Homo sapiens: one gene and its partners. The gene in region 1 interacts genetically with each later gene. Each region holds a gene or a part of one and is shown in the gene's direction. Other genes may lie near its edges.

Region 1 (7,027 bases):
TCAAAGTTGTAAAAATTAGAGGCATATTCTTCTGGTTTGAACAGATGGAATAGATTATTGTCAAATACATTGGTGTTTGAACCATCTTTATGAGGTCTTGATGCAGTAAAACTTTAATAGTTGATGTTTTGAGTATAAATAATAGACTATGGAAACAATAAAATGTTTAATTCTGGATTCGTCAGCCAGGAAAAATAATGCTTTATATAAATTTAAATTCTAGAGATAGACTACAAATTACTGTTCCTGTTTATGCCTTCATTTTTCTCTTCACCAGTATTTTAAAGAACATAATTTAATTAACATATTTCTAATCTGCACATCTTTCTTATAGGTGCTGAAAGGACATGATGATCATGTGATCACATGCTTACAGTTTTGTGGTAACCGAATAGTTAGTGGTTCTGATGACAACACTTTAAAAGTTTGGTCAGCAGTCACAGGCAAAGTAAGTTTACTCTTCCTACACTTCACAAAGTCATAATTTTGTGTATATCATTGCAAGTAGCAACTGGAAAAAAGAAAACAATAATTCATTTTTGATTCTTAGTTATTTGGATAGCAAATATCAGAGCTCATAACTTAGCTTTTTTCCCCATATTTATGAAAGCCAATGGCATGAGGATAGTGATGCTTCTCATGATAGAGGTTTCATTAATTTTTTTTCATTTACATAGTTTGTCTATCTTTGTGACAGATACTTTAACATTTTCAAGGGTGCTTTATGTTTTTCTTGGCTCAATTTTTCCCCACTTTTATTTACTATCTAAGTTATACCTCATTACTTTGTAATGTTTTTCAAAAGTATGGTTGAGGGATATTTATTTTTCCTTATAAACTGCTTTGTTGATAACCTACCTGTAGTTTAGAACTTAATAAATCATGTTAATTTATACTTATCTCAAACCCTTGTGAGATGAGAGTGGACAAGGCATTTAAATGTTAAGTTTGAAGAAAAAGCCCAAGCAATCAGCTTGACTGTGTACCATATCATACCTTAATGATTCTCTAGTGAATATTTATTTTTATCTGTCCAGTAGAGAATATTTTCATGAATTAAGTAATTGCCACCTAAAAAATAACAGAAGAGAGTATGAAAACAAAAAAAAATCCATGTCTTTTAAAATGTCTTTTACCATGTTGCTTCTTGGCAAGTATCTTATAAATATTCCAAGTCAGATGTTAAAATTTTTTAAAGCAGCTTTATATTTCCATAGTGTAATATTAGTTTGGGATTTATTACAGGGCTTTAATGTCTGTCTTTACTTGTCTAGAAGTAGCTTCACTGGCTCCTAACTACTGCCCTGGGGCAGATTCAGATGAAATGTGGTATGTAGCCACACCCAATACTGTTGGCATACTTTCATTGAATCTATTCCCATGGAAGAAACCCAGTTGCAATTTCAGTATTATTTCATCAAAGAGGCCAGGCCAGAGCTATCATAACTGCTTTCATGTCGTGTTTCCTTTTTATTATATCATGTTTTATATCATATGTTTGCTTTCTACATACTACATACACAATTGCTTGTGCTTATATAAATTTATAATGCTTTTGAATAAACAAAACAATAAATAGTGATGGGATCATTTTATACGGATGTAATATTTTCTGAAGAGCCAAACAAATTAAATAAGTAACTTTACTCCAAATTTTAATGAGCTATTAAATTTTATTTAAATCACTTTTCCTTTCTACCCAAAAGTAATCATCTTAAGTGTTTTTCCAGTGTCTGAGAACATTAGTGGGACATACAGGTGGAGTATGGTCATCACAAATGAGAGACAACATCATCATTAGTGGATCTACAGATCGGACACTCAAAGTGTGGAATGCAGAGACTGGAGAATGTATACACACCTTATATGGGCATACTTCCACTGTGCGTTGTATGCATCTTCATGAAAAAAGGTAAGGGAAAATCTTGTCATGGTTGGGACTTCTTCCTCTATTATTGGTGAATTTGGGCCCTTTCTGTGTAGAGTTACTGAAATAGTGACAGTGTGCTCTTAAATTAGATTTAATTATTACACTTCAGATGTTTCTATTCTAGGAAAGCCATAGCGTTTTGTCTTAAAATTGGTGATTGTCTGTAAATTTCCTTTCTCATTTGCTAGTGTTGTCAGCTTCCTGTTTGAAACTCTCTACTCTCTAATCTCTAATCCTTTTTGTTGTTCTGTATCTTTGATGACTCATCATATTCAAGCAGAAATCATGTTTTCTCTCTCTTTTTTTGATATTCTTATTTCCGCAAGTGGGACAAATTCAGGCTTCAAGCGTCTGAGCCTTTTTAAATTACCTACCCACCTTACACCCACCCTATCTCTAAGTCTAGGCAAAAGCTGAGGCCTGTGGGTAATTTGTTCTCTCATTCTGAACTATTGTCACAGCTTTCTAACTTGGTTATCTTATGTTTTATACAGCTGACATATAGTCCTTTTATAATTATGATAGTGTCACTGCCCAGTTCTTAAGTCTTTTTGAGCCTACTGTTGACTAACGAATTAAGGAAGAAATCCTCGATCCAGTTTTCAAAATGGTTTCTGCCAAACTGGACTTTTTGACTTTCTCTTCTCAGTGCCTTTGCTGTTGCTTTTATCTCCTCCTGTAAAGCCCTCCTATTAAAATCCTATCTTTCTATTATCGTCATCATACCCCTGTTAAACAAGTGTGATTTCTACCTCATTTGTCAAAAAAGGTCTCTCTGAAAGGTCCTTACAGTGAATCCATGGCAGTCTTTACCTTTAATTCTGTCTATCGCATCTTCTTTATTAAGAACAATTACATTAAGCAGATTTCACACCAGATTTGTAATATGTGAAAAGGAGTACCTTTTCAATTGTCATTTACCTCTACTTTGAACAGTGTGCTATACTGTTAAAATTTGGGGGATGAGTATCAAGAGACCTTGTATTCCAGTTTCCATTATGTTCTCTCAACATTAGGTTCTCAATTAAAGGGTTCTCTCAACCCTTTAATTATCTACTTTTTTAAAATATGGAAACTGTGGTATTTCTTTATCTCTTCAGAATGACATAAGGATACCTGAGTTTTCAGCTTTGTTTTGTAATCCAAAAGTGATTACAGTATTTGTATATTGCTCTGGTTTTCAGAAGAGTATAGCGCTGATGTTGAACCAAATGTTTAAGGGATAGCCATTGTTTTTAAAGATGTACATATCTTTTAAAATCTTTATCTCTTAATATTTTTATAGCCTATTGCATATTTATAAATCTAATCATTAAAAGCATAAGCAGCCTGTGTTTGAGGACATGTCTAAAACTGGTTAATTTTTACTGGAATGTATAGTGTAAACACAAATCTGCAGCTGTTTAAATTCCAAATTCTGACTTGTTTTGTTGTATAAACTTTATTGAATTTTTTACCTAATCACAAGGGAATATATGCATTCATAATTGAAATTTTGGAAAATGGCAAAGAACATAAAGAAAATTTAAATTCTTTAAACCACTACCACCTAGAGTTCTCCCATTAACATTTTATACATATGCCCACATTAACATTTTATTTCTAAAATCAAAATCTTATTGTATATATTTAGAGGCAGCTTCTGCTGCTTTTTAAAAAATACAGTACAGTGGTTTTCAAACTCAGTCCCACAGAACCTTAAGGTGCTGAACCTAAGGTCCCCAGGTCAGGGAACCAAGCATGCAGCATTCTAGGCTTCCCAACTTCCCATTCCCTTATTATGTTTATATACCAAGGTTTTACATAGGATTTCTTTTGAAAATGGTTGTTGCTGTGTAAAAAAAAAAAAAAAAAAGCTAAAAAACCTTGACTAAATCTACCATGTTTTCTCATATTATTAAAAATTCTAAACGTGGGTTTTTTTGTTTTGTTTTGTTTTTCTGTTTCTCCCTCTGCAGAGTTGTTAGCGGTTCTCGAGATGCCACTCTTAGGGTTTGGGATATTGAGACAGGCCAGTGTTTACATGTTTTGATGGGTCATGTTGCAGCAGTCCGCTGTGTTCAATATGATGGCAGGAGGGTTGTTAGTGGAGCATATGATTTTATGGTAAAGGTGTGGGATCCAGAGACTGAAACCTGTCTACACACGTTGCAGGGGCATACTAATAGAGTCTATTCATTACAGGTAAGATCTCTTATCTCTCCCTTAAATGCTCTCCTGATGAATCATAAGGTTGTTTTACTCAGATAATCACTGTCAAATTGCTGATCCAGTACAGTCCAAAAAAGATTAATCAGATTATTCTGCTGTTTTTATATACGTTAAAATTGGCATGAAGAAAGTGTAAATTTCAAAATTATTTAAATGCTTTCAATTTTCTGTGATCTATTTCTCCTCTAAATACAAATATTTGTTTTGCAACCTGACACTTTGGGGCTCTAAGTTTTGCTATGTTAATTAATGGTTAAATAGTCTCATAGGAGAGTAACCTGGATTTTAAGAAACTCCTTTGCAGAAGATTAATATGGCCAAAAGCTGCCCCTTTGCTTTGATAGCTGAAAGTTGATGGACCATGTAATTGTGATTCCATCCCCATTCAAAGTGGAAATAGATCCTTTCTGCATAAAGCACTCTACTGTCCCAGGCCCACTGATTTGTAGTCATAAAGAAGTAAAGTTGACTAAACCGATTTCTTTTTTTTGGTTTATATTTCAAGCCCATATCCTTGAAAACATTGCCATATTTTGAGATCATTAACTAGATGAATAGGAAGTTTAGAATATGAATCTTGTTTTATTTCCAGAAAGGCAACATTTTTAATGTAAAAATATTTCCTATAGCTTATATAGTTTATTTACCAGTTATTACCCATTAATGTTCAGCAAATTAGTACATAATCTTAGTACTGTCAATTCTGTTCTTAGGATATTTGTTTCTTTGTCAAAGGGATATTGTCCATGTCATGAAATATTGACAATATGATAAAAATGTTTGCTAAATTAGAAAAGGTGATGAATTTGGAGGAAGGGGAATTGGCTGCACCTGTTTCTGATATGTTCAGAAGCTTAATGAATATAATATTCTAATTTAAATAAACTGTTTGATTGAGAAAAGAGGTAGCCACATTATTGTTTAGAAATGATAGACTGTTATTGACTTTTGGTGTAGCTGGGAAGCTGGAGAAGAGGTAGTATGTAGTTTGCTTTTGATTTCAAAATGCCACCTCTTCTGATTCCAGATACAATTATCTTTTGGCACATTTCCTAATTAGCATTAGGTTCTTATAAATGAAATTTTATTTTACACACAGTTTTTAATGGAACTTACTTTTGAACATCACGAAAGTTATCTCTAGCCCTTTTCATGCCTTAGGTGCTGATAAGCATTCCGTTTATCATAAGCTATGTCATTAGTCTCAGCTTCCTAGTGGGAAGTAAAACTCATAGCAATTCTCTCAGTCATCCATGATATATAGCTAGGTGGGGCCAGATGATTTGAAAATTAACATATTGTTCATTTTAGGTGCTTTGTTTTCATTTTAAGTTGTTTCTGCATCTAGTTTGAAGCTGCTTGGCATAAAGATGAGCCTTTCTGATAGAAGTGTGTGAGAACATACATTGTAGAGTTGCTTGATGGCATGCACTTTATCCTCATTGCCACTTTATCTTAGTACCTCATTTTGTTCCTGGCATTACCTGTTTCCCATCCTCTTCCCCCTTTCCTACTAGGATTAAGGTCAGTAATTGATAGGAAGAGTATCCATACTTCTATTCTAATAAACTGTGTCTTTTGTAGTTTGATGGTATCCATGTGGTGAGTGGATCTCTTGATACATCAATCCGTGTTTGGGATGTGGAGACAGGGAATTGCATTCACACGTTAACAGGGCACCAGTCGTTAACAAGTGGAATGGAACTCAAAGACAATATTCTTGTCTCTGGGAATGCAGATTCTACAGTTAAAATCTGGGATATCAAAACAGGACAGTGTTTACAAACATTGCAAGGTAAGTCTTACTCACCTTTCGTTTTGTTCATTAAAAATGAGATCATTATTCAAGAGAAATATGGAGCCTTAGCATCACAAAAAGAGTCAACCTCATACAGAATGGTTACTTCAGAAAAGTTTATGAATATTTTCACCCTGACTTACAGAACTAGTCTACTCTTGAGGAAATGTTTTAAACTGTGTTTTTAATATGTAATATAAAATTGTTTAATCACTTCCTGCATGTTCAATTGACTCTACTTAACCTTTAAGAACAGTGAGAAGAAAGATCTTGGCTATATCATAGAAGCAACGTACTCATTATATTTTTTGATTGACCATTGCATTTTGAATTTGTAGTCCAATTTTAAAGGGCTACCTTATTGAAAAAAACAACAGCATCCTTGATAGAAAATTTATTTGGCCTCCACTTAGTCACGTGCTTAACTGGAATGGAGAGGAATAATAGTGCCTACTAAAGTAGAGAAAGAAACAAGTGAAAATCACTAATATTAGATGAGGTACAGCAGTGCCTCATGATTAACTTTTTCTATTTGTTATAGCCCTTAGAAAGTGTTTTTTTCAGTGGGGCCATCTGATAGGCAACATTGCAGCTTTTTACTCATTGGTTTTGTCTCTCCTCAGAGTTTTGGAATAGTGACTGTTCAGCTTTGAGTGGTTCATGGTGGTGGGGTAATAGATCTCTTAGTGCTCATTTGTCCATCAGCAGAAGGTATGAAGTTGCACTATCTACATCCTCACCAAGGAATGCTGTCGTTCACACAGCCAGAAAATAAGATGTTTGTCTGGTAGCTAACCAAGCTTCTTGGAAGACAGACCTCTTGAAAGTTAATGTTTCAGTTACAAATCACTACCAGATTTTCTTACATCCATGCTGATCCTAAAATACTGAGGACATGGGTTTCTAAATATGTATCATTTCAAATGTTGCATTTATTGTATGTTCTAAAGTAGAAGTCTACAAATTATAATGTAACTAACTCATAGCCATTATTTCTAACCAGTAATTAAATTCTTTTGGTTTTTGTCTAGGTCCCAACAAGCATCAGAGTGCTGTGACCTGTTTACAGTTCAACAAGAACTTTGTAA
Region 2 (7,027 bases), on another chromosome or scaffold:
TTGACATGGAGGTGAAGCTAGTAGAGTTAAGTCCTTTAAGATGTATTCTCACCAAGGAACATATGCAATAAATAGTTTATACACATTGTGAGTATTTAAAGCAGATGTCAGCAAACTTTTTCTGTAAAGGGCAGTTAGCGTATATTTTGGCCATTGCAGTGGTTTTAGCCTGCGTAGTCTGCCACAACAAAATACCACAGATTGAGTGGTTTAAATAATAGAATTTATTTTCTCACAGTTCTGGAGGTTGGAGGTCCAAGATCAAGGTGCCAGCTGGTTTGAATTCTGGTGAGGGCTCTCTTCCTGGCTTGCATACAGCGGTCTTCTTGCTATGTCTTCATGTGGCCTTACCTTGGTGTGTACATGTGGGAGTTAGGGGAGGGAAGTAACTCTCTTTCTCTTCTTCTCTTCTAAGGCAACCAGTTCTATGGGATTAGACTTAAAGGTGGCATACCTCTATCCTTAAGATCTGGTTTAACCTTAATTACCTCCTAAGGATCCTGTCTCCAAATATAGTCACATTGAGGGTTAGGGGTTCAACATATGAATTTTGGGGATGAGGGGGACACAATTTAGTCTGTGTATCTCTGTCACAACTATTCAACTCTTCCCTTGTAATGGGAGAGCAGCTGTTAACAAAAAAGCGTAAATTATTTACATAATTATTTGTGGATTGAAAATTTAAATTTTTATAATTTCCATGTGTTATGAAACATTTTTTAAAATTTTTTAAACCATTTAAATATGTAAAACCCACTCTTAGCTTGCAGGTCATAAAAAAAACAGGTGGCAGGTTAGATTTGTCCCATGGACTATAGTTTGCAGTATCTGTAGTTTTAGAGTATCAAGATTTACAGGATAGAAGTGATGAGTGTTAAAATCTCCCTGTGTGGTTCTGTTTTCAGGAAGGTACTTGATATTTTTCAGATGACTATGACAAGCTAATAGTACACCATTTCTCCTTTCCTTGTATGTTATAGGTACTGAAATTTGATGCCTATTTCCAAGAAGATGTTCCTATGTCAACTGAGGAACAGTATAGGATCCGTCAGGTGAACATTTACTATTATCTAGAAGATGACAGCATGTCTGTCATAGAGCCTGTTGTAGAAAATTCTGGAATCCTTCAAGGCAAGTTAATAAAACGCCAGCGGCTAGCCAAGAATGACCGGGGTGACCATTACCATTGGAAAGACCTAAATCGAGGAATAAACATCACAATTTATGGCAAAACTTTCCGCGTTGTTGACTGTGACCAATTCACACAGGTATAGCATATATTTTTGAAAGTTGTGGGGTCTGAGGCATCATTCTAATTTATAGAAGGATACATTTCATTTATTAGGGTAAGGGGAGGACATTGGTAATCTGTCCTGCATGAATTATTATGAATGGCTAGGTATTTGCATGTGTGTATGTGCTAATATGTGCCAACACTAATAGTAACATAATTTTTTCAGAATGATATTAATACTTATTCACTCAAAATCAAACTCTCATCATAGCTGAATAATTTGGTAAGAAACCAGGTTAAAATGGCAGTTCAAACAGGGAGTAGGGGAATAGCATCCCTGCTGGGATGTAAGTATGGAAGAGGGATTAAACGTTTTATCTTAAGTGTGAGTTTACAAAAATAGCACTACTTCTATTAGCAGATATGAGCCTAAAATTTTTTGTGTAGCTCATATATTTTTGGTAAATGATACTTGCTATATTCTAGGAAAGCTTACCATCTAAAGAATTTCTGAAATGAAACCATTTTTAAATGAAAAAACCTCTTCTATATGTAAAAAGTCCTCTATTTCGTAAGTTTGGATTTTTTAATACAAAGGAAACTTTTATTAAAGTTACATGCATAGAGGATATAGGTGGCCTTTCTTTACTACAAAGTGTAGGAATTAGGAAGTCAATTCCAAATTTGTCTTAGTTAAAAAAATATTTCTAGCAGCAAAGATATAGTTTCTGAAGTATTTTATGTCCCTATTCCAGGATACCTAGTGCCATATGTGACTAATTTTTACCATGCACTGAGCTCCTATGAATCCATTATTGTTTTCATTTAGTAGTTTGTTTAACAGATATTTATTTGCATGCCTGCTTTGTTCCATGCACTGTTCTAGGTGCCAGATGTTTTCAGGAAGGTACTTGATATTTTTCAGATGACTATGACAAGCTAATAGTGCACCATTTCTCCTTTCCTTGCATGTTATAGGTACTTGCCCCTATAGAGGTTCCAATCTTGTTGGAGGAGATAAGCAATAGCAAATAAATAGATTGGTTATATGTCAGATGATGATAACAGCAATGGAGGAAAATAAAGCTGAGTAAAGGGAATGGAAGTTGAGGGGCTCTTTATAGAGGCGGATCAGAGAATGCCTCAGTGATAAGATGACATATGAATAGAGGCCTGAAGGAAGTAAAGAAAGGAGCCATGGCATCAGTGCCATTCCAAAGCAATAGAGAAAAATAGCTTCAAAAGTAGAGGTGCTAGACCATCTTTGAGATATTCTCCCGTTCCAACATATTTTTATCTCTTTGCTTTTTAGGTGTCTGAGGTCTTATATATCATAGGCAGTTTCACAATTGTACCAACAGTGAGAAATGATAAAATGTTATCTAAACATAAATGTATTAACAATTATTTTTACAGTTGTGTTTTCATAACAATTATTTTTACAGTTGTGTTTTTATGGGCAATTTGAACATTTGCAAGTTAATCACTGAGCGTTTGACCTAATCTATTTATAGTCGGTTCTCATTATTGACAGTAATTAGGACTATAAAGTCACCACAAACACTGAATTAGTGAATACTGAACCACTAGTCTTAGAGGAAATACAGGGTTAGGTTCCCACTAATCTCTGGCCACATTTTTGTCAACTGATCAATACATAAGTTTGATTCATGTATGTTTCTGTTTAAAGACACCTTATTTAATATATACGGTTGATTCATTAACATTAAACTCACACCCAACAGCACTATAACTCACGTCTGAACAAAGCTTATCTAAGACATGCATTTTCTCCATGAGGTGTGTTACAGCCTTCTTGTGCTTAGGAACACTAAATAGCACTTCATCACTAGGCACTGGGACCCTTTAAACAGCAAAATCACCAACAAAAAACACAAAAATGCAAAAAATCTGGCACCTTCATGTATATGTATATGTATGTGTATATGTATCACATTTTCTTTTTCCAGTTTACCATTGATGGGCATTCAGGTTGATTCCATGTCTTTGCTATTATGAATAGTGCTGCGATGAACATACTTGCGGGTATGTCTTTATGGCAGAATGATTTATATTCCTTTGGGTATATACCCAATAATGAGATTCCTAGGTCAAATGGTAGTTCTGTTTTCAGGTCTTTTAGGAATCACTACACTGCTTTCTACAATGGTTGAACTAATTTATACTCTCATCACCAGTGTATAAACATTTCTTTTTCTCCACAACCTTGACAGCACCTGTTATTTTTTTACTTTTTAATAATAGCCATTCTGACTGGTGTGAGATGATATTTCATTGTGGTTTTGATTTGCATTTCTCTAATGATAGTGATGTTGAGCTTTTTTTTCATATGGTTATTGGCCATGTGTATGTCTTCTTTTGAGAAGTGTCTGTTCATGTCCTTTGCCCACTTTTTAATGGGGTTCTTTGCTTTTTTTCTTGTAAATTAAAGTTTCTTATAGATGGTGCATATTGGACCTTTGTCAGATGCATAGTTTGCAAATATTTCTTTCCCATTCTTTAGATAGTCTTTTTACTCTGTTGATGCTTTCTTTTGCTCTGCGGAAGCTCTTACGTTTAATTAGATACCATTTGTCAATTTTTGCTTTTGTTGTGATTGCTTTTGGTGTCTTTGTCATGAAATCTTTGCCCATTCCTATGTTTAGAATAGTGTTGCCTTGGTTGTCTTCCAGGGTGTTTATAGTTTTGGGTTTTACATTTAAGTCTTTTATCTATCTTGAGTTGATTTTTATATCTGGTGTAAGATATATGGCTAGCATATGGCTAGCAGGTTATCCCAGCACCTTTCCCCATTGCTTATTTTTGTCAACTTTGTTGAAGATCACATAATTATAGGTGTGTAGCCTTATTTCTGAGCTCCCTATTCTATTCCATTGGTCTATGTGTCTGTTTTTGTACCAGTACTGTACTGTTTTGGTTACTGTAGCCCTGTAGTATAGTTTGAAGGCAGGTAACATGATGCCTCCAGCTTTGTTCTTTTGCTTAGAATTGCCTTGACTATTCAGGCTCTTTTTGGGTACCATTGAATTTTAAAGTATTTTTTTCTAGTTCTGTGAAGAGTGTCACTGGCAATTTGATAGGAATAGCATTGAATCTGTACATTGCTTTGGGCAGTATGGTGACTGTAAAGATATTGATTTTTCGTATCCATGAGCATGTAATGTTTTTTCATTTGCTTGTGTTATCTCTGATTTCCTTAAGCAGTGTTTTGTAATTCTCATTGTAGAGATCTTTCATCTCCCTGGTTAGCTGTATTCCTAGGTATCTTATTCTTTTTGTGACAGTTGTAAATGGGATTGTGTTCCTGATTTTACTCTCAGCTTGGCTGTTGTTGGTGTATAGGAGTGCTAGTGATTTTTGTATGTTGATTTTGTGTCCTAAAATTTTGCCGAAGTTGTTTATTAACTTAAGGAGTTTTTGGGATGAGGCTCTGGAGTTTTCTAGATATAGAATCATGTTTTCTCCAAACAGGGATAGTTTGACTTTCTCTCTTCCTACTTGGATGTCCTTCATTTCTTTCTCTTGACTGATTGTTCTGGCCAAGACTTCCAATATTGTCTTGGATAGAAGTTGTGGAAGAGGGCATCCTTTTCTTGTGTCAGTTTTCAAGAGGAATGCTTCCAGCTTTTCCCTGTTCAATATAATGTTGGCTGTGGGTTTTTCATAGATGGCTCTGATTATTTTGAGGTGTGTTCCTTTAATACCTAGTTTATTTATTTATTTATTTTATTATTATACTTTAAGTTATGGGGTACATGCGCACAACGTGCAGGTTTGTTGCATATGTATACATGTGCCATGTTGGTGTGCTGTACCCATTAATTTGTCATTCAATTAGGTATATCTCCTAGTGGTATCCCTCCCCACACCCCCCACCCTATGACAGGCCCCAGTATGTGATGTTCCCCACCCTGTGTCCAAGTGTTCTCATTGTTCAATTCCCACCTATGAGTGAGAATATGCAGTGTTTGGTTTTCTGTCCTTGCGATAGTTTGCTCAGAATGATGGTTTCCAGCTTCATCCATGTCCCTACAAAGGACATGAGCTCATCATTTTTTATGGCTGCATAGTATTCCATGGTGTATATGTGCCACATTTTCTTAATCCAGTCTATCATTGTTGGACATTTGGGTTGGTTCCAAGTCTTTGCTATTGTGAATAGTGCCGCAATAAACATATGTGTGCATGTGACTTTATAGCAGCATGATTTATAATCCTTTGGGTATATGCCCAGTAATGGGATGGCTGGGTCATATGGTATTTCTTGTTCTGGATCCTTGAGGAATCACCACACTGTCTTCCACAATGGTTGAATTAGTTTACATTCCCACCAACAGTGTAAAAGCATTCCTATTTCTCCACATCCTCTCCAGCACCTGTTGTTTCCTGACTTTTTAATGATCTCCATGCTAACTGGCATGAGATGTGTGGTTTTGATTTGCATTTCTCTGATGGCCAGTGATGATGAGCATTTTTTCACGTATCTGTTGGCTGCATAAATGTCTTCTTTTGAGAAGTGTCTGTTCATATCCTTCGCCCACTTTTTGATGGGGTTGTTTTATTTTTTCTTGTAAATTTGTTTAAGTTCTTTGTAGATTCTGGATATTAGCCCTTTGTCAGATGGGTAGATTGTAAAAATTTTCTCCCATTCTGTAGGTTGCCTGTTCACTCAGATGGTAGTTTATTTTGCTGTGCAGAAGCTCTTTAGTTTAATTACATCCCATTGGTCAATTTTGGCTTTTGTTGCCATTGCTTTTGGTGTTTTAGTCATGAAGTCCTTGCCCATGCCTATGTCCTGAATGGTATTACCTAGGTTTTCTTCTAGGGTGTTTATGGTTTTAGGTCTAACATTTAAGTCTTTAATCCATCTTGAATTAATTTTTGTATAAGGTGTAAGGAAGGGATCCAGTTTCAGCTTTCTACATATGGCTAGCCAGTTTTCCCAGCACCATTTATTAAATAGGGAATCCTTTCCCCATTGCTTGTTTTTCTCAGGTTTGTCAAAGATCAGATGGTTGTAGATGTGTGGTATTATTTCCGAGGGCTCTGTTCTGTTCCATTGGTCTATATCTCTGTTTTGGTACCAGTACCATGTTGTTTTGGTTACTGTAGCCTTGTACTATAGTTTGAAGTCAGGTAGCGTGATGCCTCCAGCTTTGTTCTTTTGGCTTAGGATTGTCTTGGCAATGCAGACTCTTTTTTGGTTCCATATGAACTTTAAAGTAATTTTTTCCAATTCTGTGAAGAAAGTCATTGGTAGCTTGATGGGGATGGCATTGAGTCTATAAATTACCTTGTGCAGTATGGCCATTTTCACAATATTGATTCTTCCTACCCATGAGTATGGAATGTTCTTCCATTTGTTTGTGTCCTCTTTTATTTCATTGAGCAGTGGTTTGTAGTTCTCCTTGAAGAGGTCCTTCATGTCCCTTGTAAGTTGGATTCCTAGGCATTTTATTCTCTTTGAAGCAATTGTGAATGGGAGTTCACTCATGATTTGGCTCTCTGTTTGTCTGTTATTGGTGTATAAGAATGCTTGTGATTTTCGCACATTGATTTTGTATCCTGAGACTTTGCTGAAGTTGCTTATCAGCTTAAGGAGATTTTGGGCTGAGAGGATAGGGTTTTCTAAATATACAATCATGTCATCTGCAAACAGGAACAATTTGACTTCCTCTTTTCCTAATTGAATACCCTTTATTTCTTTCTCTTGCCTGATTGCCCTGGCCAGAACTTCCAACACTCTGTTGAATAGGAGTGGTGAGAGAGGGC
Region 3 (7,027 bases), on another chromosome or scaffold:
GTGAGTCAAGATCGCACCACTGCACCCCAGCCGGGGTGACAGAGCGAGACTCTGTCTCTGAATAAATAAATAAATAAATAAATGAATAAATAAATAAATAAATAAATAAATAAATAAGGGAGGTGAGGAGACACAGAGAAACAGAGGTCAGAGGCAGAGAGGGAGACAGGGTGAGTCAGACAGGTGTAGTTGGACGTTGAATGAATGAATGCACGAATTTACGGGAAGGCAAGGGTGAGCATGAGAGCCACAGAGATGGAACAGAAAGAGAGACAGTGAGAAATAGGGAACTGAAGACACACACGCCAAGGCAGGAGAACCGCTTGAGTCCAGGAGTTTGAGACCAGCCTGGGCAACATTGTGAAATCCCATCTTTCCAAAAGAGAGATGGAGAAATGGACGTGTTGTGGGAGAGAGAGAGAGAGAAATGCGTAGGGCTCAACACACTGTAGGTCTTCAGGAAATGCCTGCAGAGCAGAAAAGTTGATAGACACATAGAAACCTTAGGAGAGGCCGGGCGTGGTGGCTCATGCCTGTAATTCCAGCATTTTGGGAGGCCGAGGCGGGCGGATCACGAGGTCAGGAGATCGAGACCATCCTGGCTAACATGGTGAAACCCCGTCTCTACTAAAAATACAAAAAATTAGCTGGGTGTGGTGGCAGACGCTGGAAGTCCCAGCTACTTGGGAGGCTGAGGCAGGAGAATGGCATGAACCCAGAAGGCGGAGCTTGCAGTGAGCCCAGATCGCGCCACTGCACTCCAGCCTGGGCGACAGAGCTAGGCTCCGTTTCAAAAAAAAAAAAAAAAAAACCTTAGGAGAGTCGGAGAAACAGAGAGCAGGGAGAGAAATAGAGGGAATTCAGTCCACGGAAAAGTGTGATCTATGGCAGCATCTAGTAGCTGCTGAGTTAATTCTTGCGTATGGATTAACTGCCTGAGGTGCACAGAGCCCAAAGGCAGAGAGAGGGGCTGAAGGATAGACAGGTGTGTAGCATGGGCTAGGTTTACGGTGAGTGCTTAGTAAATGCTGTGGAATGATTGCATGAGTTCCAGAAGGACCCAGACTGGTGAGACAGAGAATGCAGAATTGGCTACACTGGGAAGGAGACTCCACCTGACACAGCAGGAGAAGGATAAGCAGATGTTGTATAGTGCTTGGGCAGGGCCAGGCAAAGGGGAGATTTGCTCAGAAAATGTTGAATGAATGAATGCACAAATGCATGGGAAGGCAAAGGTAAGCATGAGAGAGCCACAGAGATGAAACAAACAAACAAAAAAGACAGAAATAGGGAATTAAATAGGGCCAGGCACGGTGGCTCACGCCTGTAATCCCAGCACTTTGGGAGGCCTAGGCGGGCAGATCACTTGAGGTCAGGAGTTCAATACCACACTGGCCAACATGGCGAAACCCCATCTCTACTAAAAATACAAAAATTAGCCGGGCGTGGTGGTGCATGCCTGTAATCCCAGCTACTTGGGAGGCTGAGGCAGGAGAATCACTTGCATCCGGGGGGCAAAGGTTGCAGTGAGCCAAGATCACGCCACTGCACTTCAGCCTGGGCGACAGAGCAAAACTCCATCTCAATCAGTCAATCAATCAATCAATCAATCAATAAAAGACATGTAGGGCCGGGCACAGTGGCTCACGCCTGTAATCCCAACACTTTGGGAGGCCAAGGTGGGCGGATCACTTGAGCTCAGGGGTTCGAGATCAGACTGGCCAACATGGCCAACCCCATCTCTACTAAAAATACAAAAATTAGCCTGATGTGGTGGCGTGCATCTGTAATCCTGGCTACTCGAGAGGCTGAGGTGGGAGAATCACTTGAACCCGGGAGGTGGAGGTTGCAGTGGTTGCAGTGAGCCGAGATCATGCCACTGCACCCCAGCCTGGGAGACAAGAGTGAGATTCCTACTCAAAAAAAAAAAAAAAAAAAAAAAAAGAAAAAGGAAAAAGACACATAGGTTAAGGCAGGAGAATCACTTGAGCCCAGGAGTTGGAGACCAGCCTCGGCAACCTAGCAAAGCCCCATCTTTACAAAAAATATTAAGAAATTAGCCAGGTGTGGTGGTGCACACTTGTAGTCCCAGACACTACATAGGCTGAGGTGGGAGGATCTCTCCGTTGGGATACTGAGCCTAGGAGGTCGAGGATGCAGTGAGCCAAGATCGTACCACTGCACTCCAGCCTGGGCTACAGAGCAAGACCATCAAAAAAATAAAAAATAAGACACACATGAAAGAGACACAGAGAGAAAAACAGACGAATGGAAAGATAGGGACACAGGGAGAGACAAAAATGGAGATTCATAAATAGAGACAGCTGGCCAGCTAAGTGAGATAGAAGCTGAGAGAGGCGAAGAGAGAGGGACTTCAAGGATGCAAGAAGAGAGAGGAATTGCATGGTGACCCGACCAAGGCCAGGTTTTGGGGGATGGGCCAGCAGTGAAGGGGGGGGCCTCCGAACCACCAGTCTGTCTCTGTAGAGGGGGGCATTCTCGGGGCAGACCCCAGCCTTGGGGGTGACTGGGTCCCCCTGGCCCCACAGGTCAGTGACGCGGAGTTATTACCGAGGGGCGGCTGGAGCCCTGCTGGTGTACGACATCACCAGGTGGGTGCCCGGGGTGGGTGGGGTAGGGCATGGGTGGTTCCTCTCCTGCACTGCCTCCCTCCCTTCTCCCTTCTCCACAGCCGGGAGACATACAACTCACTGGCTGCCTGGCTGACGGATGCCCGCACCCTGGCCAGCCCCAACATCGTGGTCATCCTCTGTGGCAACAAGAAGGACCTGGACCCTGAGCGGGAGGTCACTTTCCTGGAGGCCTCCCGCTTTGCCCAGGAGAATGGTGAGGGCTGTGTCGTGGACCAGGTGGTGGTGGGGGTGGACAGTCCACAGGGACCATGGGTTTACTGGCTCTCAGTGGCTGTACCCAGCAGGGGAACGTGGAGGTTCAGAAGTCTGGGTTCAAATTTGAGTGTTGGCTGGGTGTAGTGGCTCACACCTGTAATCCCAGCAGTTTGGGAGGCCAAGGTGGGAGGACTGCTTGAGCCCAGGAGTTTGAGACCAGCCTGGACAACACAGTGAGATCCTATCTCTATAAAAAATTTAAAAAATTAGCTGGGTGTGGTGGCTCATGGCTGTAGTCCCAGCTACAGTGGAGGCTGAGGCAGGAGGATCACCTGAGCCTGAGAGTTTAAGACTGCAGTGAGCTGTGATCACGCCATTGTACTCCAGTCTGGGAGACAGAGCAAGACACTGTCTCCAAAAACAACAACAACAACAAAACAACAACAAAACTAAGTGTTGCCATCAGTGAGCTATGTGATTACACTGGTTCTCAGTTTCTTCATCTGGAAAGTGGGATCACAGTGTTTCTGCCCCACAGTGTGCTGTGATGATTAAGGGAGATTGTGGAAAGTCCTTAGCACCCGCCACAGAGTGGGTGCTAGATTAATGTTGGCCGCTAAGGTTTCGCCTACCGTCAGGAGGCCGCACAGGGTATTGGTTTTTTAAATTAATTATTTTATTTATTTTTTCCTCCTACCGCACCTTCCTGGGTATTGGTTTAATGTAGAGATTGCAACCCTAGATGGCCCTAGGTGAAAGGCACTTTTTTTTTTTTTTTTCTGAGACGGAGTCTTGTTCTGTTGCCCAGGCTGGAGTATAGTGGCGCAATCTCGGCTCACTGCAACTTCTGCCTCAGCCTCCCGAGTAGCTGGGACTACAGGTGTGCGCCACAACGCCTGGCTAATTTTTATATTTTTAGTAGAGACGGGGTTTCACCATATTGGCCAGGCTGATCTCGAACTCCTGACCTTGTGATCCGACTGCCTCGGCCTCCCAAAGTACTGGGATTACAGGCGTGAGACACTGCGCCCGGTGAAAGGCACATTTTTGAATACAGGAGATGGGATGGGGTAGATCCTTGAGTAACAGGTACTGGTGTTAAGGGGAGTGCAGCATACTGACAACCCACACCAAAAGGTTTGCAAGGGCCAACCACAATGGCTCACACCTGTAATCCCAGCATTTTGGGAGGCCAAGGTAGGAGCATCACTTGAGATCAGGAGTTTTAGACCAGCCTGTGTAACAGAGTGAGACCCTGCCTCTACAAAAAAAAAAAAAAAAAAAAAGCCTGGGTGTGGTGGTATGTGCCTGTGGTCTGGGGTACTCAGGAGGTTGAGGCAGGAGGATCACTTGTGCCCAGAAGTTCGAGGCTGCAGTGATCTGCAATCACACCACTGCACTCCAGCCTGGGGGACAGAGAGAGACTTTGTCTCAAAGAAAAAAACAAAAAAGGTTTGCAAGTATAAACTCATTTGAAAACATTGTGTTGGCCAAACCACCCACATCTGGTGGCTTGAGATCTGCCTGTGTTCCCCTGTTTTGCAACCTCCAGGTTTAAAGGAGGTTTTGCCATCAGAGAGGTGTGGGTGTGAATTCAGCTCTGATTTTCTGACTGTGGGGCCTTGTCATGCTGCTGATGGGTAGACTCTGGTTGGCCTGTTCCTGTCCTAGATGGTGCTAGAGACACAGTGTTGGAGACAGCCCTAGGCCCAACCTTCATGGAGCTCACAGTTCAGTGGGTGAGGGTGGAAGGACAGACCCACTTCCAGACAGTGACACCTCAGGAAGGTCAGGGCTTGATGGTGAAGCACCGGGAGACAGGGGTCAGAGCCAGCAGGGGAGAGCCCCAGAGGGTCAGGGCCAGTACTGGGGGGGCAGGCAGAGGGATCGGGGTGGGATGGAGAACACAGGCAGAGGGGTCAGGGCTGGGATAGGGCAGGCAGAGGCAGAGGGGTCAGTTGGGATGAGGGGACACAGGCAGAGGAGTTACATGGGATGGGGGGCAAGGGCAGAGGGGTTGGGGTGGGATGGGGGGCCCAGGTAGAGGGGTCAAGGCCAAGTTTGGGAGGCACAGGCAGAGCGGTTGCATGGGATGGGGGAGCATGGGCAGAGGGCTCAGGGGTGGAATGGGGCAGGCCTAGGCAGAAGGGTCAGGGGTGGAATGGGGCAGGTCCAGGCAGAAGGGTCAGGAAAGGAATGGGGCAGGCCCAGGCAGAAGGGTCAGGGGTGGGATGGGGACCCAGGCAGAGGGTTGGGGCCAGGATGAGGAAGCACAAGCAGTGGGGTCAGGGCCAGGATAGGGGGCCACAAGAAGCTGTGGGAGCCCTAAGTCGGTACCTGACTCAGCCCAGGAAGTCAGGGAGGACTTCTTGGAGGAGGAGCTGTGTGAGCTGAGCTCTGAAGGAAGAGCTGGGTGGGCATATCGGGAAGCGGACATTAGTGGCAGGGAAATGGCATGCGCAGAGGCCTGAGGTGAGGGTAAGGGGGGATGGAACATTGGAGGAACAGGATGAGAGTCAGCAGGTGAGAGCTCAGTGGAGGGTGGGGACTAACTGGGGCCCTGACCTCAGAGTGTGTGCCCCTGCAGAGCTGATGTTCCTGGAGACCAGCGCTCTCACAGGCGAGAACGTGGAGGAGGCGTTCCTCAAGTGTGCCCGCACTATCCTCAACAAGATTGACTCAGGTGAGGCCCCGACCGGCCCGAGTGGGAGCGAAGGGCAGGCCCGGGGGTCTCCAGGCAACCAATGCTGACCTCTCCCCTTCCCCACAGGCGAGCTAGACCCGGAGAGGATGGGCTCTGGCATTCAGTACGGGGATGCGTCCCTCCGCCAGCTTCGGCAGCCTCGGAGTGCCCAGGCCGTGGCCCCTCAGCCGTGTGGCTGCTGAGCTCTGTGGAGCCAGGTGGGACACTGGGGGCTTTAGGGAGGCAGGGCGGCCTCTTGGGCATGGGGGAGATGGTGTGGAGATAGACACTGAACATGTGATGACAAGAGAAACAGAGTGAGAGAAAGATGCAAAAACACACAAGCTAAAGGAGGCATCTGGCTGGGCGCAGTGGCTCACGCCTGTAATCTTAGCACTTTGGGAGTCCGAGGCGGGCGGAGGCAGTTCATTGGGTGGGGGTGGGGAGACAGACCCACTTCCAGACAGTGACAGCTCAGAAAGGTCAGGGCCAGGCCTGGCTCGGTGGCTTATGCCTGTAATCCCTGTACTTTGGAAGGCCGAGGCGGGCGGATGACCTGAGGTCAGGAGTTCGAGACCAGCCTGGCCAACATGGTGAAGCCCCCTCTCTACTAAACATACAAAAATTAGCTGGGCGTGGTGGCAGGTGCCTGTAATCCCAGCTACTCGGGAAGTTGAGGCAGGAGAATCACTTGAACCTGGGAGGTGGAGGTTGCAGTGAGCTGAGATCACACCATTGCACTCCAGCCTGGGTGACAAGAGCAAGACTTTGTCTCAAAAAAAAAAAAGAAAGAAAGGTCAGGACCAGATGGGGAGGCACTGGGGGAGAGGGGTCAGAGCCAGCAGGGGAGAGGCCCAGGGGGGTCAGGGCCAGGGTCAGGGCACAGGCAGAGGGATCAGGGTGGGATAGGGCAGGCAGAGGCAGAGGGGTCAGGTGGGATGAGGGGACACAGGCAGAGGGGTTGCATTTGATGGGGGGTATACATAAGGTCAGGAGTTCTAGACCAGCCTGGCCAACGTGGTGAAACCCCTCCTCTACTAAAAATACAAAAATTAGCCAGGCATGGTGGTACATGCCTATAGTCCCAGCTACTTGGGAGACTGAGGCAGGAGAATCACTTGAACCCAGGAAGCTGAGGGTGCAGTGAGCCAAGATTCAGCCACTGCATTCCAGCCTGGGCGACAGAGCAAGACTCTGTCTCAAAAAAAAAAAAAAAAAAAAAAAAAAGAGACATCTGCCAGGCCACAGGGAATCCACCTGCAGCCCCAGGCCAGCTTCCTGCCCTAGACCTTGACCCTCCCATTCATAGTTCTCCAGCGATTTATTGAGCGCCTGCTGTGTGCCAGGCCCTGCTCAAGGCACTGGGGATATGGCAGGGAGTACAACAGACTCCCATCCTCATGGTGCTGACATTCTCTTTGGGGGAGACAGGTGATAAACAAGAGATGTAAGTCGACTGGGCGCAGTGGCTCACACCTGTAATCCCAGCACTTTG
Region 4 (7,027 bases), on another chromosome or scaffold:
TCAATATTGCCTTTTGTGGTACCTGGTTTTTACAGTCCCTTTAGTGGGAATCAGCTTGCTTCTCAATAACACACCTCACCCCAACCACTGTGCCCTTTGCAGGCTTTGAGTTTTATCTTTTGGCTCTGCTAAGCAGTCATCAATCATCAGTTTCTCCTTTATGGCCTTAAAAAACTGGTTTGCATATCATACCCTGTTTGCATTTGTGTCGTCCTGGTTAATTTATCCTTTCTTAAAAAAATGTCTCAGGTTGTGGGGGTCATGTTCGTGGGTTTTAGGAATGACTGGAGTGGAGAGAGAAAGATACATATATGTACTTCGTCCACTATGTTTATTAGAATTCCTTCCATTTATTCAGCCTGCACCAGTCTGGCCTCTGACCCCACCACTTCAGGGAAACTGCTTTTTTAGGTCACCTGTCATCCTCATGTTGCCAAATCTAGCGGCCGTTCTTCCCCCCAGTAGCACTTGACACTCAATTGTTCCTTCCTTGAAACATTGTTTTTCCAAGACACCACATTCCCATGTTTCCTCCTACTTTATAATCTTCCTTAACTGGCTTCTTTTACTCTGTTGTACTTTTAACAGTAGTGTCTCTGACTTTAGTCTTCAGCCCTCTTCTGTCATTCTGTTCCTCAGGTGGTTTAATCTGCTTTGATGATTTTAAGAAACATGAGTATTGGCCGGGCGCGGTGGCTCATGCCTATAATCCGAGCACTTTGGGAGGCTGAGGCTGGCAGATCACCAGGTCAGGGGATCGAGACCATCCTGGCTAACACAGTGAAACCCCGGCTGTACTAAAAATACAAAAAATTAGCCAGGCGTGGTGGCAGGCACCTGTAATCCCAGCTACTCGGGAGGCTGAGGCAGGAGAATGGCGTGAACCCGGGAGGCGGAGCTTGCAGTGAGCCGAGATCGCGCCACTGCACTCCAGCCTGGGCAACAGAGCGAGACTCCATCTCAAAAAAAAAAAAAAAGAAGCATGACCATTCTGAAGATTCTTAAAGCTGTCTGTTTGTTTTCATCTCCACTGCTACCACTCTTGCCTAGGTCTCTCTGACCTCTGGTCTGGACTCCCACAATAGCCTCTACACTGGTCACCTAGCTTATGCTCTTGCACCCCTACAGTGCATTCCTAACATAGAAGAAACTCCTTACCAAGGCCCATAGGCCCTTTAATAATGGTGTCCTGTTCATCAGTGAAACCCATGCTCATCAGGGACCTATGCACTGATTTCCTTCTGAGACTCTTCTTGGCTCTTTGCATAGCCAGCTGCTTTTAATCCTTCATGCCTCAGCCCAATTTTCACTCTTTAAAAGAGTACTTCCCTCACAATTGTGTCTTAGTTGGTCCTCTTTGTCTCCTCAACCCCAAACATCATAATCTATAATTTTTTTCATGTATTTGTTTATTGACATCTTACTTGCTAGAATCTAAACTCTGATACATGGGGTCTTATCTGTTTTTGCCTCTAGGGTGTCTTGTCTGCATAACAGGTGCTTAATAACTATTAGTTGAACCCCCATTTCCTCATAAGTCAGATGAAAATAAAAGCACGTGCCTTACTTCACAAAGTAATTAAGGGGATAAGTTATACTGATGTACTTTAAAAACTAGGTGGTAGGGAGGCACAGTGGCTCAGTCCTGTTGTCCTGATGCATGAGGAGGTAAGGCCAGGCATTCAAGACCAGTTTGGGCAACATAGGAAGCCTTCATCTATATAACAAAAAAAAATTTTTTTTTTTAGTTTAAAAACTAGGTGGTAGTTTTCAAACTGATACAATGGAATTAAAGATAGGAAACATGAAAAGAACATAGGTGCTTAATAAATATTTGTTGAATACGCTAACATGATGGAATTAGAGATGGAAAACAAAAATAATGAAAGGGATAGGATAAAGTTTGCTCAGCCTTTTTGGAAACATTAGGTAAGTTTCCATTTTGAGTTAGTAACAGTTAATTTTGCAAGTGTAAAAAATGTCCTTTCTCTATTTATCCCTTGTAACTGTTGATGCTGTGAAAGATTAATATTGCCTGCTAAAATTAGATACTGCATTATATGCATTTGATTTTGGTGAATGTCCATATTCAGCTTGAGAGAACTGCAAAGTGTCTGAGAGATTACTTTTAGACCCAGTAGTTTAATCTCCTTGGTTTATAGATCTTTCTATTTTGGAAGATACTACTATGATCACAGGACTTCATGTTTTCTAAGGGCAAACCGGAAAACTGGTTATAAATGCTTGTTATAGAGAGGAAAGTCCATTACCAAACACTTCTGACTTAAGTAGTTAAAATCTTCTCTTGAAGCTTCTCAGTCTTGCTAAGAATGATATTAAACATAAAATCAGAAAGATTAAATATGATTCTGTCACCTACATAGCATGTTTTATCTATTTTATTAATACTTTTTACAAATACTGTTTCTCTAGTGATGGCTCATGAAGCAATGGAATATGATGTTCAGGTGCAGTTAAATCATGCCGAACAACAGCCAGCTCCTGCTGGCATGGCCAGCAGCCAAGGGGGACCAGCCCTCCTCCAGCCTGTTCCTGCTGATGTGGTCAGCAGCCAGGGGGTACCATCCATCCTCCAGCCAGCTCCTGCTGAGGTGATCAGCAGCCAAGCGACACCACCCCTGCTCCAGCCTGCTCCGCAACTGTCTGTTGACCTGACAGAAGTGGAGGTCTTGGGAGAAGACACTGTGGAGAACATCAATCCAAGAACTTCAGAACAACATAGGCAGGGATCTGATGGTAATCACACCATCCCAGCATCTTCGTTGCATTCAATGACCAACTTCATCAGCGGACTGCAGAGACTTCATGGCATGCTGGAATTCCTGAGACCTTCATCTTCAAACCACAGTGTAGGGCCAATGAGAACAAGAAGGAGGGTATCTGCTTCACGGAGGGCAAGAGCCGGAGGGTCTCAGAGGACAGACAGTGCCAGGTAAATAAATATATGGATAAGTCTGTGATCATTGCTGTACTAGAAATTATGAAACTGAGGCTCTGCCATTCAAGGACTGACAGTGTGACTTTTGGCAAGTCAGGTAACTTCTGACCCCCAGTTCCTCATAGGTGGAAATAAAAGTGCTTGCCTTACTTCACAAAGTAATGAAGGGATAAGTTAAACTGTTGTGCCTTGAAAACTAGGTGGTAGTTTGTTGGCAATCTCTGTAGAGATTGGCTGTTGTTCAGATTGTGTCTTGTACACCAAAAATTCTTTCTTCACTTGCAAGTCTCTACTCACCCAAATTCATTATTCACTGGCATTCCACCTGGGGGCACAATTAATTAATTTTCTTTCATAGTCTTGGTTTGAACTTGCCTCTTGAAGGGCTTAGCTGTCAAGTCTTGACAGGGTTATTATGAAGAATAACAATTGCCTATACCCTGTCCGTTTTTTGGTTTTTTGTTTTTGTTTTTGAGACAGCGTCTCACTCTGTCGTCCAGGCTGGATTCCCGTGGCACAATCTTTGCTCACTGCAACCTCCATCTCCCAGATTCAAGCGATTCTCCTGCCTCAGCTTCCCCAGTACCTGGCATTACAGGCGCGTGCCACCACACCTAACTAATTAAACCTGTCTGTTTTTGGTTTTGTTTTGTTTTGAGATGGAGTCTCACTCTGTCGCCCAGGCTGGAGCGCAGTGGTGCGATCTCCGCTCAGAGAGGGCTTTGTTCAGGGTCTCATAACTATAGAATAGAGGAGTTAGCACTGATATTGGAGCCTGGATCTGCCCTGTTTTCTACATAGGCAGATGGAGGAAGCTTCGACGAAATCCCTTTGTTTTCTCTTTCTTCTTGTTTTTATTATTGTTATTTTTGAGACAGGGTCTCACTGTGCTCCCCAGGCTGGAGTGCAGTGGTGCAATCACAGCTCACTGCAGCCTCGACCTCCCCAGGCTTAGGCGATCTTCCTACCTCAGCCTCTTGATGATTAACTGGGACTACAGGCATACGCAACCATGCCGATGTTTTCTAACACTGTGAAAATATTGAGATGATACTAAAAAGTGGTAGCTAGGTCATCTATTACCCATGTTTTACAAATGAGGAAGCTGATGGGATAATTTGTGATTTGGTTGTGATAAGGCTGGAATTGGAATTGTGCCTTCTGTATCTGGATTCAGCATTCTTTTTCATGGATCCTGCTGATTTTAATGTTGGGGCTTGCCATGACTGTGGCTCCAGTGTCTGTAGTGCCCATCAAGGATGACAGATGCCTAGTTCTGTGTTGACAAGAGTTGCAAATGCATATTACTCTGGGTTTTTTTTTTGTTTTTAAGACAAGAGTCTTGCTCTGTCACTCAGGCTGGAGTGCAGTGGCGCAGTATCAGCTCACCAGGACCTCTGGCTCCCGGGTTCAAGCGATTCTTGTGCCTCAGCCTCCTAAGTAGCTGGGATTGCAGGCGTGCACCAGCAGGCTTGGCTATAGTCTGTTGTTTTAAGATGTCATTACTCACGTTATAAAGGCAGGGTAAGATTTCATACATTTGTGTTATAGGTGAAGGCACCTTATGGTGTAATTTGGGGACCCTCCCAAAGTAAATGGGCTAACTTTCCATGGTTGAGAGTTGTGAGTGGTGTTTCCAGGAGCTGGCTGACTGTCAGGAGGCCTCTTGCAAGTCCTCAGTCTTGCTTATCCATGCACTCATTCTTGTTGGGGGACGCAGAGTGGATTCCTCTTGGTCAAGCACAGTGACTTGTATTAACCAACTTAAGGGTGACACTTATAAACCAGATGCCAACTTACAAAGAAAAACAGAACCACTAGAGAGCCAAACAGAAGCCAAACTCTAGTGAGAAAATTGCTTGATGTGGCTGGGCATAGTGGCTCACGCCTGTAATCTCAGAACTTTGAGCGGCCAAGGCAGGCGGATCCCTTTAGGCCAGGAGTTCGAGGCCAACATGGTGAAACCCCATCTCTACTAAAAATACAAAAAATTAGCCGGGCGTGGTGGCACACACCTGTGGTCCCAGCTACTTGGGAGGTTAAGGCATGAGAATTCCTTGAACCTAGGAGGCGGAGCTTGCAGTGAGCCAAGATCTTGTCACTGTAATCCAGCCTGGGTGACAAGAGTGACTCTCTGTCTCAAAAAAAAAAAAAAAAAATTATAGAATCTGCTCAGGGAATGAGTTATACAGAATTTAAATGTTGAAAGATGTCAGTCAAGCTATTTGGCAGCCATAATCTGTCTCCACAAAGGGAATAACCTAAACGGTCAGGAAGTGTGCAGTTCAGTGGAAATTACATCAGTTCTGGAGCCAGGTAAATGTGATTAAAACTTTTTTCCCTGAAGTATGACCTTTCCCAGGACTAATCGCTTATAACTTCTGAATTTCTTGAGATGAATTTCTCAGTGTGGTGTTTGACATTTACTCATCTGACAGACTGTCCCTGGGCCAGGTGTTGAAAGCCTGGGCCAAGGTGAACAGCTTTTGACTCACAGTCAGCCAAGAAGCCAAAGCTATGGAAAGCTAAGTAGTGAGCTTATTCTTCCCAACAGGCTTAGCTGAGGTCACAAACTCCTTTCTGATTTGTTTGGGGCGGTTTCATTCTGGCAGTGGGGGTCATCACTCATTCATCAAATATTGATAACACTCCTCTGTGTGAGAGACTAAACTTTGCCCTAGATATATTGGTGAATAACACAGATCACAATATTGTTTTCCTGGAGCATACGGAGTCTAGGACTACAGAGAGTAGGGAAGGAGCAAAATTCAAAGTTGGTAAGTGCAGGGAAGGAGGAGAATTTCTTGGGTTCTAAATCTGTGCTCCCAAAGAGAAACCCTAGCACTGCTTCCTGTTGGTTTTCACAGTTCCCCTTTCCTGTGTTCTTGCCTGACTTTGGAAATTCTTTGCTACATAAAAGCAATATTAAAGAGTGATTTTTTTTAATCGTCTATCACTTTTTTACTGGGTTCTATGTAGAATTCTATTGATATACGTGTCAACACCCTAACTCTAGTATGTATTTGATTAAATCTTCTTATGAAATGCTTTTCTTATGTGTTTAGTCTCATGGTAGCTATAGCTGCTGTTCACTTAGAATCTCAAGAAATGGAGTTGGTAAACTTGCTTAGCACTGTCTAAAAAGAAAACCTGGCTAGGCGCAGTGGCTCACACCTGTAATCGCAGCATTTTGGGAGGCTGAGGCAGGCGAATCACCTGAGGTCACGAGTTCGAGACCAGCCTGGCCAACATGGTGAAACCCTGTCTACTAAAAATACAAAAATTAGTCGGGTGTGGTGGCGGGTGCCCATAATCCCAGCTGCTCAGGAGACTGAGGCAGGAGAATCGCTTGAACCCGGGAGGTGGATGTTGCAGTGAGCCGAGATTGCGCCACTACACTCCAGCCTGGGCCGCAGAGCGAGACTCCGTCTCAAAAAAAAAAAAAAAGAAAAAGAAAACCTGGGTGATGTCAGTGAAAATGGCAGAGTAAGGACCACAGAGAATTATCTCCATGGAAGTAGTGAAACAACTGGCAGAATTTGTCAGGATCAACTTTTTCATAATTCAGGAAACTGACCAAATGCTTATAGCAATCCAGGGAGTGATTATTAAAGAAAAACAGCCGAATCTCATTGAGCTCTATGGCATTCCTTATTCTTGTCACCTTCTCCAGCTCCTTGATAGTTGTGAAAAGCATCTGCCTGTAATCATAGTAAAAACCAACAGCCTGGCAGGCACCAGAGGGATTGGAGCACCTTCAAAGCCTCATTCCCAGAGAATTATCTTTATATGACCTGTTGGTGGTTCTCTGGAAAACCCCATTTGCAAGACTACTCTTGACTCTGAGCAATGCAGAGTGTGAAAAGCCTAAATCATTTTCCCTGGGGCCTGCCTGAGGTAATGGATATTCAGTGGGATAAGCAATAAACTAACCAATAAGAAGGAAAGGAAAATCTAGGAATGAGATCAATTCAGTCACATCTTCTAAGTCTAGTTCTCTTGCTGTTTCTAGCACATCTGCAGTTACTTTCTTAACTGAAGTCTTGAGCCCGGCAAAAGTCATCCATA

What was found.
Region 2: changes in FBXW7 (region 1) and EFHC1 are lethal when combined (synthetic lethality), as found in Homo sapiens cells (one study listed by BioGRID).
Region 3: changes in FBXW7 (region 1) and RAB4B are lethal when combined (synthetic lethality), as found in Homo sapiens cells (one study listed by BioGRID).
Region 4: changes in FBXW7 (region 1) and RFWD3 are lethal when combined (synthetic lethality), as found in Homo sapiens cells (one study listed by BioGRID).

What each region holds. Positions count from the first base shown.
Region 1 is NC_000004.12:152,323,093-152,330,119, reverse strand, and holds part of FBXW7 (F-box/WD repeat-containing protein 7), read left to right. Parts: intron 1-334; coding exon 335-448; intron 449-1,730; coding exon 1,731-1,912; intron 1,913-3,888; coding exon 3,889-4,114; intron 4,115-5,725; coding exon 5,726-5,936; intron 5,937-6,970; coding exon 6,971-7,027. UniProt on the Homo sapiens protein: Substrate recognition component of a SCF (SKP1-CUL1-F-box protein) E3 ubiquitin-protein ligase complex which mediates the ubiquitination and subsequent proteasomal degradation of target proteins.
Region 2 is NC_000006.12:52,437,324-52,444,350, forward strand, and holds part of EFHC1 (EF-hand domain-containing protein 1), read left to right. Parts: intron 1-980; coding exon 981-1,268; intron 1,269-7,027. UniProt on the Homo sapiens protein: Microtubule inner protein (MIP) part of the dynein-decorated doublet microtubules (DMTs) in cilia axoneme, which is required for motile cilia beating.
Region 3 is NC_000019.10:40,781,229-40,788,255, forward strand, and holds part of RAB4B (ras-related protein Rab-4B), read left to right. Parts: intron 1-2,549; coding exon 2,550-2,612; intron 2,613-2,692; coding exon 2,693-2,847; intron 2,848-5,436; coding exon 5,437-5,532; intron 5,533-5,619; coding exon 5,620-5,735; 3' UTR 5,736-5,750; intron 5,751-7,027. UniProt on the Homo sapiens protein: The small GTPases Rab are key regulators of intracellular membrane trafficking, from the formation of transport vesicles to their fusion with membranes.
Region 4 is NC_000016.10:74,656,858-74,663,884, reverse strand, and holds part of RFWD3 (E3 ubiquitin-protein ligase RFWD3), read left to right. Parts: exon of another isoform or gene 1-1,929; intron 1,930-2,431; exon of another isoform or gene 2,432-2,433; 5' UTR 2,434-2,435; coding exon 2,436-2,953; intron 2,954-7,027. UniProt on the Homo sapiens protein: E3 ubiquitin-protein ligase required for the repair of DNA interstrand cross-links (ICL) in response to DNA damage. Plays a key role in RPA-mediated DNA damage signaling and repair.